Regions from separate parts of the Homo sapiens genome. Here region 2 is linked to region 1. Evidence: fine-mapped expression QTL. A gene starts in region 1. The other region holds a variant in brackets. All regions are shown on one strand. Distances are between the middles of the regions.

What was found. PIP is the estimated chance that this variant, and not a neighbour inherited with it, causes the effect. A credible set is the group of variants that fine-mapping cannot tell apart.
Region 2: its variant is the best candidate, but not a certain one, in a credible set for the expression of LCN2 in whole blood (INTERVAL, PIP 0.68).

What each region holds. Positions count from the first base shown.
Region 1 is chr9:128,147,892-128,151,891 of GRCh38, forward strand. It overlaps LCN2 (lipocalin 2), which reads left to right and starts at 1,562. Exons shown (of 7, transcript NM_005564.5): 1 at 1,562-1,772; 2 at 2,347-2,483; 3 at 3,747-3,826. The coding sequence starts at 1,635. RefSeq lists a silencer at 2,912-2,961.
Region 2 is chr9:128,729,824-128,734,263 of GRCh38, forward strand. It overlaps ZER1 (zyg-11 related cell cycle regulator), which reads right to left. Exons shown (of 16, transcript NM_006336.4): 15 at 3,603-3,705; 16 at 1-1,571. The coding sequence ends at 1,514. It overlaps ZDHHC12-DT (ZDHHC12 divergent transcript), which reads left to right. Exons shown (of 2, transcript NR_046240.1): 2 at 3,019-3,420. Among named protein-coding and RNA genes, the nearest start is that of ZDHHC12-DT, 7.6 kb to the left of the region's middle. RefSeq lists enhancers at 1-576, 2,370-2,870, 2,871-3,371. The variant G/A (reference allele first, on the strand shown) is at 2,704.

The sequences.
Region 1 (4,000 bases):
ATGGGGTTTCACCGTGTTGGCCAGACTGGTCTCGAACTCCTGACCTCGTGATCCACCCGCCTCAGCCTCCCAAATGCTGGGATTACAGATGTGAGCCACCGCACCCGGCCTGGCAGAGGATACTTTTTAAGGTCAAAGACAGTAGCAGAGGTGGAGTTCCTGGGAACAGGGTCATGAGGGGAAGAGGGGGTTCGGAGGGAGCGAGTAGCCACTGGCTACCTCTAGAAAGGGAAGGCTTTGGTGCAACATCGTTCCCCTGCAGTTTTACTCATCTTTGCTTCCTGCCCTTTCATCATCCAATCGGGCAGGCAGGACAGGGCCTGAGGGGGCAGGGATCCAGTGGGTGCCTCTCTAGACTAACCCCAGCTCAGGACTCCCAGAGCCCCTTCCCTGAGGCCCTGCTGCCCCCAAGCCCAGATTGGGGATCCCAAGCAGCACGTAGGCAGAGCCAGTGAGGTCCCCGTTAGTCCCATTGAAAGCTCTAAAACCAGCGAACCCTCAGTCCAGCCTCAGGTCAGGCATCCAGGACGGCCTCAGCCCTCATGGGTGAGCCATCTCTGCGGACACTGCACAGGGCCTACGATCCATCGCTGCCTCCCGAGGATGCCAGCCAGGCCCCCGTTGAGATAACTGCTTCCCTGCTGGACAAGGCTGGGACCAGCCATCTCGGTGACAGTTCCAGAACCCCTGGCCTGGGCTGCTGGGTTCAATGGAAAAAGGCTGTGACTAGAGTCAGGGGGATGGTCTCAGTGACCTCAAGGATAAGGCCAGATCCTTGCACTGTCAGTGACCCAAAGCAACAGGTGTCCAGAGCAGCAGTGTGGCGCCTTCACGCCCCCACACATCAGCCCAACTCACCCAGGACAGGGACTGTAGCCTCAGCACTCAACCCATGTGCCCTGTGTGGGGTCTCTTCCCACTGCACTCACAGGAGAGGAAGGGTCCCTCAGGGGTCCACTGGGGTCCCCTCCTGCAAATGGGGCAAGGAGAGGGGCAAGGGGCTGTCTCAAGGCCCCTGGAGCACATGCAGGTCCTGGACTGGGGCTCCTGGGAGGGCCATGATTCTGGGCTCCATGAGTTCAGAGCAGACGCCTTGTTTTTCCTTGTCCACTGTCAGCCACCCCACCCTTCCCTGACCCTTAAAAGAACCAGGAAACAGCACATGATCTGTTGGAAGGAGGCATTCATTCTTTCCTTTCTGTGGGTGTGGGGAGGGGACCACAGGGCACATACCCCACCCTGGGATCCAGCTGAGCAGGGGGGTCAGAGATGACAGCTCTTCCGGCTCACAGGCCACCGGCCCACATACAGGGCAATCAGAAGAAAGAAACAGCACAAGGAAGGCACAGAGGGAGTCGTTGTCCCTGCCAGAGGTGCAGCACTCCGGGAATGTCCCTCACTCTCCCCGTCCCTCTGTCTTGCCCAATCCTGACCAGGTGCAGAAATCTTGCCAAGTGTTTCCGCAGGAGTTGCTGGCAATTGCCTCACATTCCTGGCCTTGGCAAAGAATGAATCAACCCACCCTAGATCCCATAAATAGGGCCACCCAGGTGAGCCTCTCACTCGCCACCTCCTCTTCCACCCCTGCCAGGCCCAGCAGCCACCACAGCGCCTGCTTCCTCGGCCCTGAAATCATGCCCCTAGGTCTCCTGTGGCTGGGCCTAGCCCTGTTGGGGGCTCTGCATGCCCAGGCCCAGGACTCCACCTCAGACCTGATCCCAGCCCCACCTCTGAGCAAGGTCCCTCTGCAGCAGAACTTCCAGGACAACCAAGTAAGGGGCCAAGAGGGGCACCTGCAGGCAGGGCCTGGGGAAGAGTGGGAGCAGAGGGGAGGAGAGGTGAAGAGACTCAGGAAGAGCGTTGGGCAGGACTCTAGGAGTCCAGGGTCCAGGTTTCAGCTCACTCTGTGCCACCAGGGTCCCCTGGTGGAAACCATGCCCCTTCCCCCCATCCCCACCCCCTCTCAGCCTGAACAGACTCCCCCAGGTCCACATCCCCTCTCCCATAACCCCCATTGTCCAAAGAAGGTGGGAGCACTTTTAGTCCCCCTGCACAGATGAGGAAACTGAGGCTCAGGAAGGCCCACCAGCCACATGCCTCCTCCAGTGAGGAGGTCACCCTCCTCCCTGCCAGACTCAGAACCGCCTCTTCCCCCAGGACTCCCTTCTGGACTGATGGCCTCCTGCTCCTGCCCCTTCACCAGTGCAGGCCCAGCCTGGGCCCTGCTGCCCAGCTAGAGGGGCTCATGGTTCCAAGCTGGGCGGCCCAGAGGTGCCACAGGGACAGAGCTGGAGGGGTGGCTCCTAGGGCCATTCCTGGGTTGTGCCTCTTATCAGTCCCTTGCAGTTCCAGGGGAAGTGGTATGTGGTAGGCCTGGCAGGGAATGCAATTCTCAGAGAAGACAAAGACCCGCAAAAGATGTATGCCACCATCTATGAGCTGAAAGAAGACAAGAGCTACAATGTCACCTCCGTCCTGTTTAGGTGAGGGCCGACATCTCCTGGGGGTGTGAGAGTCAGACTGACGTCACAGGCAAGGGATGGCCAAAGCTGAGGGATCCTGTCGTTCACCTCGCTGTTCTGCCCGGAATTCATCTGTGTTCATCCTTCCTCTGTTCCTTAGAGCAACGTTTATAGCACATTTCCATGCAGACACACAGACAGTGGTGGGGATGGACATGCACAGTCGTTAGAAAACAAGACGGAGAGAGGAGGGGTGCCTGGGAGCGGGAGGAGGGGACACTGGATCCAGCCTGGAACCCCACCCAGTGCCTTCATGGAAGGCTTCCAGGGAGGTGGCCTTAAAAGAGCCAACCTGCTTCAAAAGGAAATGTGGGGTGTTCCCGGCAGGGGCTGGAGTCAGAGAGAGCCCCCCCTTCAGGAAGGAGCAAGCCATCGCAGGGTCACCCTGAGCAGAGCTGCTGAGCAGCCTGGAGGGGCAGGTGGCCACGCTAGCACCTAGCACGGTCCTCAGGCCCCGCCCCAGCGGATCTGCTGCGGAGTGGCTTAGAGCAGGGCTCTTGGGCCGCAGGGTGGGGAGACTTGGTGGGGTGCAGCCTAGGGGGTCGGGAGACCAGCGAAAGTGAAGCGGGGCCGTCACAGGTGTGAGAGAACAGGCGCAGGGTGAAGAGGCAGGGAGCCAGGGATCAGCCGCCCCCAGTGGGTTTCTGACTCTGGCAGCTGAGTGGATTGGGATTGGGGCATTTGTGGAGCAAGGAGCAGAATACAGACAGGTTGGGGAGCTCAGCCCTGGGGTGCCAGGGGATGGGAAGTGGGAGGACTCAAGGATGGGGTCAGGTTTGACCCGAGAGCTAGGGGAACGGCTGGCATGGAGCAGACTGGAAGTACCGAGGTGGATCCCCGGGAGAGGGTATAGGAAGGGAAGCAGCAAGCTGAGTGCAGGGGAGAAATGCAGGGTTTCTGTGTGTTGGGTGGCGGGGGGGGTGAAAGCCACCCAGGGAGGCAGCCAAAGGAAAGAAGGACATCGGGTGCTGGAGGGTCTGAGTGGGGTCCAGGGGCCCCAGGCAGGCCAGGAGGGACAGCCTGGTGTCAGCTCAGGGAGAAGGCCCAGGCCCATCTCGGCTGGGTGGGGTAGGGCCCCTCCAGGTAGTGGGGGATGAGCTGTCACGGGTTGGGCCGGACTGAGAGCAACAGAACCCTGCTGCTGCCCTGGCCCCACCTTGTCCAGCACAGGAGGCCCAAGCCTGGGTTGTCTCCCCTCTCACCCACCCATCTCTCCCTCCCAAGGAAAAAGAAGTGTGACTACTGGATCAGGACTTTTGTTCCAGGTTGCCAGCCCGGCGAGTTCACGCTGGGCAACATTAAGAGTGAGTCTTGAGTGAGGTGGGGCACTGAGTTGGGGCTCCGGGGAGCTGGGTAGGGGCACAGACCTTCCTGCCCCTCCACACAGATGTGTTGTATGGGGAGAAGCCCACGTTGATGGGCTGGGGAGGGAGGGGACAGCTCCCTCCTCCCATCCAGGGCAGGGCTGACCCCTCACC
Region 2 (4,440 bases), 580 kb after region 1:
CAAAGTACAGACATTTCCCCAGGCCCCAGGGGGTAAAGCAATGAGGTGTGAAGTCTGCCAGGGTCTGGCCGGGGCCGCTGAGCGTGGGAAGGAAGGGAGCGCCGCATGCAGCCCATCTGCCAAGCTGGGGGAACACAGGGCTGCGCCCACTTCCCAGGGCCGGGAGGGAGAGGCTCCAGGAGAAAAAGGCCAGGTGTCTCTCCCAAAGCTGCTCACCCCTGCCGTCCTGCCTGGAGGCAGAAATGCTAGGAACACCTGAAAACAGGCCCGCGGGAGGAAAAGGGAAGAAAAAGCCATCACCCAAAGGCTGCCTCCAGGGTTAGCGCTGCTCCCCAGGCCCCTGCGCTCCACAAGTGTCCGATGAGAAGCAATGCAGTGTCCATCGATGGAGGAGCAAGAGAGCCGGCGCCTCTCAGGCTTCCAAGGTAAAGCCTAGGGCAGGGCGGGACCGCCAGGGAGGCCCAAGCGGCCACTGCAGGGCAGTCCGAGTGCTGGTCTGGAGGCGGCTGTGTGGCCGTTGTGGGTCAAAGGCTGTCATGGGACCTCTGCCTCTGAGAGGCGTGGGGTCCTCTGGGCAGCGGGGCAGGCTGGGAGGAGGAGGCAGGCTCAGTTCTGCTGGTGGGAGCGCCTGGGCAGTTGAGGGCTATGGAGCGAGGAAGCAAGCCCCTGGCCCCAGAAGATGCTAGCTTCCAGGGCTGAGGGCAGGTTCTGGATGTGTTTGGCAGAAGGGGCAGTGGAATCTGCCCCTGAGTTCTGACCATCCCTGGGCTGGGGCTTTCCACAGCCTGGGACCTGGTGGGAGACTAGGAGGCAGCCTCCATAGCAGCGTGGCCTCAGGCAGGCCTGGCTGGACAGCAGCAGGGCCACTGGGTGCCCTGCTCCTAGAGGGTCTTCAGGGGCAGGGCTGCCTGGACCTCAGCCTAGGAATGGCTCACTTTCCTGCCCCAGATGGCCCACAGCCGGGAGCACCAAGGCTTTTGGGAGACCCAGTGGGGTAAGTTCTAATCCCCAAACCCCATCAGCTGTGCCCGGGAGCCGAGATGGCGTTCTCAGGCAGGGGCAGTGGGTCAGGATGCTCGATACGCTGTCCAAGGCCTGCTCCTCTCATGAAAGGAAGCCAGGCCGGGATCTGAGTTTCCTGGACAAGGACTGGACACTCACAGCGTTATAGGCATTTAGTCTGGTTGGGGTAGGAGTGTGTGTGTCAGCGATGAAGGCTGAGTGGGTTTGAGAATGGCCAAGGAAGCTGCAAGGACTCAGGAGTGTTGCTTTTGTTTTTGCACAGAAATCATACACACAAAACTTCACACTTCCTAACCAAAAAAAAAATATATATATATAATATATATATATCTCACTAACATTAAGGAAAAGCGTCGGTTGTGCAAAAGTCCCCCATGTCTCTTCACTCCGTGGGAGGCTCCCTCGGAAGGGGCCCGCCCGCTGGGCTGCTTGAGCATGCTTCCTCCCCGCCTGTGGTCCAGAGCGGTGGCGGCCATGGGGACGGAGGCCTCTATCTAGACGTGTCCATGTTCTCCTCTTTAAAGTTACTGCAGTGCTCAATCACCTTGCTGGAGACAATGGGGGAGACAGGATTGGAGGGTGGGCTTGGGTGGGGGTGAGCCCAGCCCCTCCGAGATCATTAGGCAGCTGGGTAAACACGTGTTCATAGTGATGGTGATGCTGACCGAATGATGTGGACAGAGGGGCTGGCAGAGTGGCTGGCATGTGCAGGGGACTCAGGGAATGGCACCTGTGGCCGTGAATGCCATCACCAGCCATCCTCCGCTTCCTTCCTTTCCATGCCCCTCTTCTCCCACCCCCAGTCCCAGGGCATCTGTGGATAGGGGGTCCCCAAATCAGCTCAGGCCCGACCTCCAAAACCCTTTGGAAGTTTCTTTAGCGACCTCTTCTTCATTTTCCCTGCACACTAGACCCTTCTCTTTCCAGAAGTCCACCAGTGGTCCCCAAACTGACTGCACATCAGATTCCCCTAGAGGCCCGGATCCAGTGGCAGGTCCAGGGTCGGGCAGGGGCAGCTGTGCTCGCACAAGGGCCCCCACTACCCTGTGGCAGCCAGGGCTCAGCACTCCAGCTCAGATTTCGAGTCTCGCCCGCCCCAGCCTGACCCCTGCCACCCATCACTGTTGGTTGTCACCTTGGACCCCGGACAGCTTGCCCATTCAACACCAAGCCTGTGGTTTGGGGGCTTCACTGCAGCCTCTGTGTGTTAAAGGGATGCCCCAATACCTTTTAGGAAACAAATACCCAGAGTGGGAGAGAGGTCAGTGGACAGGCCGAGGGCCTTCTCCTAAGCATTGTCCAGGGTCATTTACTCCTTGCTGTCAGACAGGCCAGTGCCTCAGATTCCCATCACAGGCCTTGGAGAAATGTTCAAAGTGACTGTGGTAGGTAACTGGTCAGTCTTACCCAGTGCTTCTCAAATTTCCCGGGAATCCTTGTTAACCATGAAAATTCCAGGGCCACCTCCCACCTCCCGGATGTACTGGAAAAGAAAACCTAGGGGTGGGCCCCGTCCATTTATTTTTAAATTTTATTTTTTTGAGACAGAGTCTCGCTCTGTTGACCAGGCTGGAGTGCAGTGGCACCATCTCGGCTCACTGCAACCTCTGCCTCCTGGATTCAAGTGATTCTCCTGCCTCAGCCTCCCAAGTGGCTGGGATTACAGGCACGTACCACCAC[G/A]CCGAGCTAATTTTTGTATTTTTAGTAGAGACGGGGTTTTACCATGTTAGCCAGGTCTCGAACTCCTGACCTCAAGTGATGCACCCACCTCAGCCTCCCAAAGTGCTAGGATTACAGGTGTGAGCCACTTCGCCTGGCCAGTAGCGCCTTTGGCCAGATATAATAGCAGAACCAGCTGACACTTCCCTCCCCTGGCCCAGGAAGTGGCTGGCTGAGGAGCCTCTGAGTTTCAGGCCCCTCCTCCATGTGAACTTTTGCTCTATACAGAGCCATGAAAAAGTGTGCTCGGGTCAGCTTGACTGTTCTCCCTTCTAGAATGAATCCTGGAGAAAACAAGGTCGTTCGACGATTTCGACACGTCGCATCCCTGAGAGTCTCTCGTGTCCTGATCAACTCGAGAACTGGAGGCGGTGACATTTTAGATGCTGCAGTGAAAGCCACAGAGCCACGGAAGGCCGAGACTCCACCATGTTTGTGATCTTCACATTCAGCAAACTCACTCGCACTCTGCCTCATCTTATCTCTAGAATGTATTTTACCACACTGTGTCCCTTCTTTAGTGGGAATGTCTTTGGCCAAAAATAATGAATAGTTCTGACCTGACTTGCTAATACCCAGTGATAAAAGGATGGAATTTGTTGGGAATAAAAGAAAACTAAGCTTACAAACGAGGGCCCTGATGCTCCGTTCCGAGCTTGGTCATCTAATTTCCAGCCACAATGTGGTCGAGATGACATTTGGAGAGGCCCCAGGTGGACATCAATACACTGTCAACCTCCATACTCAACTCTAAGCTGTCCCTGGGAATTTCAGCCATTCCTAACCTCCAGAGGGCGCCCGCTATGCCCTTACTCCCCTAAACCAAGGTTCCAGGCAGAAACACACTGCTGGTCTCTTACCGGGCCATTTCCTTGGTCTCCTGCCGTGCGGTCGCCATCTTAATTATGTCCCTCAGAAGGGGCATCCCCCCTTCTTTGATCAGCAGAGGGCAGTACTTGTCCGCTGTGGGATAGGAGCAGACAGCAGAGGATCAGGATGGGTCTTCTTATCAGCCCGAGGCCCAGAAACCCACCCTGTCTGTGAGGACTATCCTGGTGTCGGGGGTGTGAAGGCACAGCCCTTGGTGGGGGCAGTGCTAGAAATGGGGGCAAGACGTGGGCCCAGCCCCATGGGTGGGAGTTCTGCGTCCATGTAGGGGAGGCAAGAGGTGACTCCTTGGTTTGAAGTTGCTGCATTTATTTCCAGAGCTCATTCTTTTTTTTAAAAAAAAATTATATATATATATATATAAAATATATAATCTTAAAATATATATATATATGGCCGGGCACGGTGGCTCACGCCTGTAATCCCAGCACTTTGGGAGGCCGAGACGGGCGGATCACGAGGTCAGGAGATCGAGACCATCCTGGCTAACACGGTGAAACCCCGTCTCTACTAAAAATACAAAAATTAGCCAGGCATGGTGGCGGGCGCCTGTAGTCCCAGCTACACGGGAGGCTGAGGCAGGAGAATGGCGTGAACCCGGGAGGCGGAGCTTGCAGTGAGTCGAGATCGCGCCACTGCACTCCAGCCTGGGCGACAGAGCAAAACTCCGTCTCAAAAAAAAAAAAAAAAAATATATATATATATATATAAAATCTTAAAAAAAATATATATATATATATAATAGATATAATTTTTTTTTTGAGACAGAGTCTCACTCTGTCACCCAGGCTGGAGTGCAGTGGCACGATC